Regions from separate parts of the Homo sapiens genome. Here region 2 is linked to region 1. The links come from fine-mapping of genetic effects on gene expression. A gene starts in region 1. The other region holds a variant in brackets. All regions are shown on one strand. Distances are between the middles of the regions. Region 1 holds the start of RNF145 (ring finger protein 145). Region 2 overlaps LINC01932 (long intergenic non-protein coding RNA 1932).

Region 1 (2,808 bases):
ACTTGATTCCTACAGAGCTATCAAACTAATGGAAGGCAAGTTACTCAGAGTTTGGTTGACTGATACCTCCAGGGATTGCATTTTCTAAATACAGAGCTTGCTTTCACAATTTCAGCAGGATACAAGAGTGTTCAGAATTGGGGGTTTACCATTCAAAGGGCAGAGGCCAGAGACTTGAATTTACAAGGAGGGTCCTCAACACAGACATCGAGATTACAGTACATTAATTTCTCTTGCACATGAAGAAGTTGAGGCTTCACAATTTCAGCATGACCCAGTATAGTTGCAACATCTTACCCATCACTGGGTGTGTATCTTCTGTGTACACTGGCCCTTTCAACATCTAAGGCCAGGCTAGGTGCTCATAGCAACTGGCTCCCCAGGAACTAACGAAAGAGAAAGCAAGAAACAGTGGAGGGGTTTTGGTGATGGTGGAAGGCAGGGGAGATAGAAGTGGGGGTTGCAGAAGGTCGTGGTGAGGCAGAGTGGCAGACAAATGGGGAATGAGAAGTCTTGCCAAGCCCAGAAGACTATCGTTGTGTAAACACACAATATGCTTCAGGCTATGTATTCTGGGCAACAGTTCCTGCCCTAAAAGGTGTGGACATTTAAATTAGGGTAGGATTGCGCATTCTGTGATAGAGACTGGCACAGAGACAAAGTGGAACTCCTCTACGTTGGGGAGGGGAAAACATACATTAGCCTGTTTTGAACCTTAGACCAAGACAAGACAAACACACAAACACCATTTAATTTCATACTGCAATAAAATTCTTTGTACCAAACCATGGGATCAAAATTGTTACAGATACTCAGTGAACAGTTCCAATGCATTCATTCATCCAGTCACTTACTCCACAGGGGTTTGAGTGCCTGCACTTGGTGCTGGGCACGGCTGAGCCATCCCAGACGCCAAGGAGTTTACAGTCTAGTCCAGTCAGTGACGAGGTTAAAACGAATTCTCGCATCATTGCTACTGCGAATGCACCGGGACAGGATCAGCCCTTCAAATTCTCCCACGTGGTCCCTGCAGGTGAGTGTGGGTGTGAGCGCTTGCGGCCCGTGGTGTTTGGGAGTGAGAGAGCACGTGTGTCAGAATGGCGCCTGTCACAGTGCGCGTCCAGGTGTCTCTGCAGTACGCCTCTCCATAGCCACCCGAGCCGGGCTGTATGGGCTTGGCTAGGCTTATGTCTCCCGCCCACGCACCGGAGGCGGTGCGGAAAGCACTCCGCGGGCGCGATTGTGAGTGAGCGCGGGCGCGCGCGGGAGGGGCGCGCCGCGCTGGCTGGGCCGCGCGCAGGCGCAGAGTGCGGAAGTCGGGCCGCGGCCGCCGCAGAGCGCCGGGGGCGGGAGGAGCAAACGCAGGAGGCCATGGCCGCCGACGCCGGCGCCGGCTGCTAAGGGGCTCGGCCCGCGAGCGCCTGCTGCCGCGGACGATGGTGACCGTACGGGCCGGGCCGCTGCCGCTGCCGCTGCCTCCGCCTCCCCAGAAGCAACATCCGAGGCTCGGCGCAGAAGAGCCGCCGCTGTGAGCCGTGCCGTACCGGCCCCCGCCGCCGCCCGAGGAGAACGGGAGGGCGGGCGAGAGAGCCGGGGAGTTGCGGAGCCCGCCCGCCGGCAGCGCCGCTCCCCAGGGAGGGAGTCCGCAGCCTGAGGTGACCACGCCGCCCGCCCGGCCCCTTCCCATCCCCGCGCCCCCCGGCCGCTTCCCACGGCCTCCCTCCCCTCCCCCATCGCGTCGCAGGCTCCTTCCTCTTCTCCCTGTTCGCCCCTTTCCTTTTATCTCGCTTCACCTCCCTCTTCTCCCTAGCATTGGAGGAGTCCACATCCCCTCTTCAGCCGCAGCACCCCTCCCTCCCATCCTCTAGCTCTTCCCGCGGTGGTCGCCTCCCTCCGACCCTGCTCTCCCCTCCTGGGCCCCGCGCAAAGCCCCCTCTGTTCCAGCTCCCGGGCCTCGGCTGCCTCCCCGCCCTCCCATCCCTTCCTCTTCCCAGGGCCTGGAGCGCTCCCTTACATTCCTGAGATGCCCTTCCTCGGGGCTGTCCCCCTTTGCCTCCCCAGCATCCCATTTCTAGGCCTTTTTCAAGACCCTTCCAGAGCGGCCCCTTTCCAGCTCCCTTTCTCGTTTCCATTTCCAACTTTGCCTCTTTTGCCTCTTTGTTCACTTTGCTTCCAAGCTCCCCTCCCTCTTTCCCTTCGTCTTACCCTGCTTTGATCTACGCAGCCCCAAACTCAAGCTCCCCGCTTTCAGGTGGTGCGAGGTTGTTTGGGGGTGCGGAAGGGCCTGCCAGTCCATTTTTCGAGGGGGGCCCATTGCTCTGCATCCCGTCCGTCAGTCCCTTTTATAGTAAGAGGGCTCCTCATCCCTTCCTTTTTGTCCCCGTGGTTTCCTCTGTCTTGCCATCCCTTCTGTCTTCTCCCTCCAATACTGCTTTCCCCACCCAAGGACCCTCAGACCCGTGAACCCCCTTTCTGGAATGAGTTCCCTTTCTGTTCGGGGATGCTGAACTTCGCCCGCGTTTTTCTTCGCGAGCCTTTTGGTACGTGGCGTGGCGCGACAGAGTCAGCACCCTTGGCGAGATAGGAGGGGAGCTCTCGAGCCTCTTTCCTGGAAGAGTTTTTGCTGAACGTAATCTCTTAGCCCCGCGGCGGCGGCGGCCCGGTTGCTGCTGCTACTGCTGCTGCGCTGCCTGCTTGCCGCGAGCTGGGTTGGGGTTACTGTAGTTCAAACGCATCTGAGATCTGCAGGCGTTGTGGGAGGAGGTGCGGGGAGAGAGGAAGGGGCCTGTGCAGTGAGCAGGCATCAAA
Region 2 (2,808 bases), 33 kb before region 1:
CAAATCCAACCACAGTGAGACGCCACCTCACACCCTCTATGATGGCTATAACAATAATTTTGTTTTTAATGCGAAATAAGTATTGGCAAGGAAAACTCAAACTTGAACCCTCAAAACCTGCTGTGGGAATGTAAAATAGTATAGCCACTGTAAAAAAAAAAAAAAAAAAAAAAAAAAAAAAAAACATTTCCTAAAAATGTTTCAGACAGAGTTACTACAGTATATGACCCAGAAATTACCCACCTGGGAATATATCAAGAGAATCAAACCATATGTTCAAATAAAATCTTATACATGAATGTTCGTAGTAGGCATAGTTTATAATGGGCAGAAAGTGGAAACAAGCTACATATCCATGAGTGGATAAATGGCATGAACAAAATATGGCAGACCCATACATTGGAATGTCATCCAGCCATAAAATGGAATGAAGTGCTGATACTTGCTACAATATGGATGAAACTTGAAAACACTATCCTAAGTTAAAGAACCCACACGAAAGGCCACATAATGTTTCAATTTATATAAAATGTCTAGAATAGGCAAATCTATAGAGGCAAAACATAGATTAGTGGTTACCAGGTGGAAGTGGGGGCAGGAATTGGGAGTGACTGCTTAATGTGTATGGAGTTTCTTTTTGGGGTGACAAAAATCTTCTGAAGTTAGATAGTAGTGATGGCTGCACAACATTGTGAATGTACTAAAAGCCACTGGTTTGTATACTTCACAGTGTTTTTAAATGAATTTTACCTCAATAAAAAACTTTATTAATCCTCAACACAATCTCCATTGTCTGAGGCATTGTTAATATCTCCAATTCCCAGATCTCATTCTCCTATGTAAGAACAGCAGCTCAATCTTTCATCTTCTGCAAGTTTTTTTCAGTTTATTCACTTTACTCACTCTTTTTTATCTTAGCTTCTTGTGAAAGCAGATTTATGCTTTTACAAAAATATGCTTTCATCCAGGCCATCTTTTATTGCCACCTTAAGTTTTTTTTAAAATTTATCTGATATATTTTAAAGGATGCTTTTGTTGCAGCTACTTGAACTTGGATGTTCAATGCATTTTCTGAAGACCAGGTCTCTCTCATAATCTCTTTTAACCCAGAGTAAACAATCGGATATTTCCAGATTTTTTGCTTATGGCCACCAGTTTTTGTATATATTATCATTTGTTCTCAAGTCTGGCTTCCATTAAAGCAGAGTGAAATCTTTCAAATTCTATTCGAATGAGGCTAAGCTTGAAAAAAAAATGATGTTTTTCCTCCAGGAAGGCAGAAAATCCAATAGTCAGTACTTTATGTTTATTTGGATAAAGTTCTATTTTAATAATCAAAAATCTGACTATGACTGAAAATACCTTTCTATCCCATAGCAATTGGTGGGGGTCTCTGTTAAGGTTTGAGAAGCACTGCTCTAAACTGTTTCTCACGCTTCAGGTATCAGCTGACGTGCACTTCCTCAGGAAGGCTTTTGTAATCCACAGTCTT[G/C]AGTCAGGCCCTTAATTATGAACTTCAAATAAGCTCCAGCCTTTCCTTCAAATATTTATCATAGTTTATCGTCGCATGCTCACCTCCACCCAGAAGTAGCTATTATCCTAAATTTTGTGTTAAGCCTATGTTTTCCTTAGACCCTACCACACATGTAGGTAGCTCTAAACAAACTATTATTTGATTTTGTCTGTTTTTTAAACTACATCTATTAAGTCACATCATATGTGACTTTCTGTGACTTACTACTTGGCTTTCACTCTGTGTTGTGAAATTCATCCATTTATTATGTGTAGTTGCAGTGTATTCATTTTCACTGCTGTATAAAATTCCATGATATGGATAGATGACAGTTTTGTAATCCATTTTAATGTCAATAGAAATTTCAATTGTGTCAATGTTTTTTGCTGTTAGGAACAATTATGGGCTATTGTGCAATGGAGTTTCTTATTGTGTCTCTTGCTTCACATGTACAAAGAATTTTTTTTTAGTTTAACATTAGGGGTAGAATTGCTTGGTATATGACACATGCTTACTTGACTTTACTAGGTGATGACAAATTGCTTTTCAAAGTTGTTGTAGCAAATCACAACCCCACCAGGAGTGTGTGAGTTTACAATGCTCTATATTCTTGTCAAAACTTGGTATTGTCTTATTTTTACGTTTATGCCAGTCTGGTGGATTTAAACAGTTTCTCATTGTGGTTTTAATTTGCATTTATCTGATTACTAATGAGACTGAATCTTGTTTCCTGTGTTTCTCGGCATTTGGATTTCCTCTTCTGTGAAGAGCCTTTTGCTCATTTTCTACTGAGTTATTTGTCTTTTTCCTTATTGATTTGTAGGAATTATTCATAGACTCTAGATACTAATTTTTGTGCATTATATATATTATATGACTATCTTCTCCCAGTTATGGCTTCTCTTTTCATTCTTTTTACCATGTCTTTTATTGAAAAGAAGTTGTTAATTCTTACGATTTATTACCTTTTGCTTTACAGGTGGTTCTTCTTGTACTTTGTATAAGAAAACCTTTCTTAACCTAAGGTCATAAAGATATTCCAGCCTGGCATGGTGGCGCACACCTGTAATCCCAACACTTTGGGAGGCTGAGGCGGGCAGATCACCTGAGGTGAGGAGTTCAAGACCAGTCTGGCCAACATGGTGAAACCTTGTCTCTACTAAAAATACAAAAAAATTAGCTCACGTTGTGGCAGACGCCTGTAATCCCAGCTACTTGGGAGGCTGAGGCAGGAGAATCGCTTGAAACCAGGAGGCGGAGGTTGCAGTGAGCCAAGATTGCGCTGTTGCACTGCA

Evidence for each region. PIP is the estimated chance that this variant, and not a neighbour inherited with it, causes the effect.
Region 2: its variant is the best candidate, but not a certain one, in a credible set for the expression of RNF145 in whole blood (INTERVAL, PIP 0.61).

What each region holds. Positions count from the first base shown.
Region 1 is chr5:159,208,078-159,210,885 of GRCh38, reverse strand. RNF145 (ring finger protein 145) reads left to right here and starts at 1,333. Exons shown (of 11, transcript NM_001199383.2): 1 at 1,333-1,655. It overlaps LOC107986468 (a long non-coding RNA gene), which reads right to left. Exons shown (of 2, transcript XR_001742943.2): 1 at 2,206-2,808; 2 at 734-1,027. RefSeq lists enhancers at 861-960, 2,548-2,667, 2,778-2,808, 2,567-2,808 and silencers at 1,131-1,420, 1,461-1,650.
Region 2 is chr5:159,241,545-159,244,352 of GRCh38, reverse strand. The region is part of intron 2 of LINC01932 (long intergenic non-protein coding RNA 1932); the gene reads right to left. Among named protein-coding and RNA genes, the nearest start is that of LINC01932, 15 kb to the right of the region's middle. The variant G/C (reference allele first, on the strand shown) is at 1,493.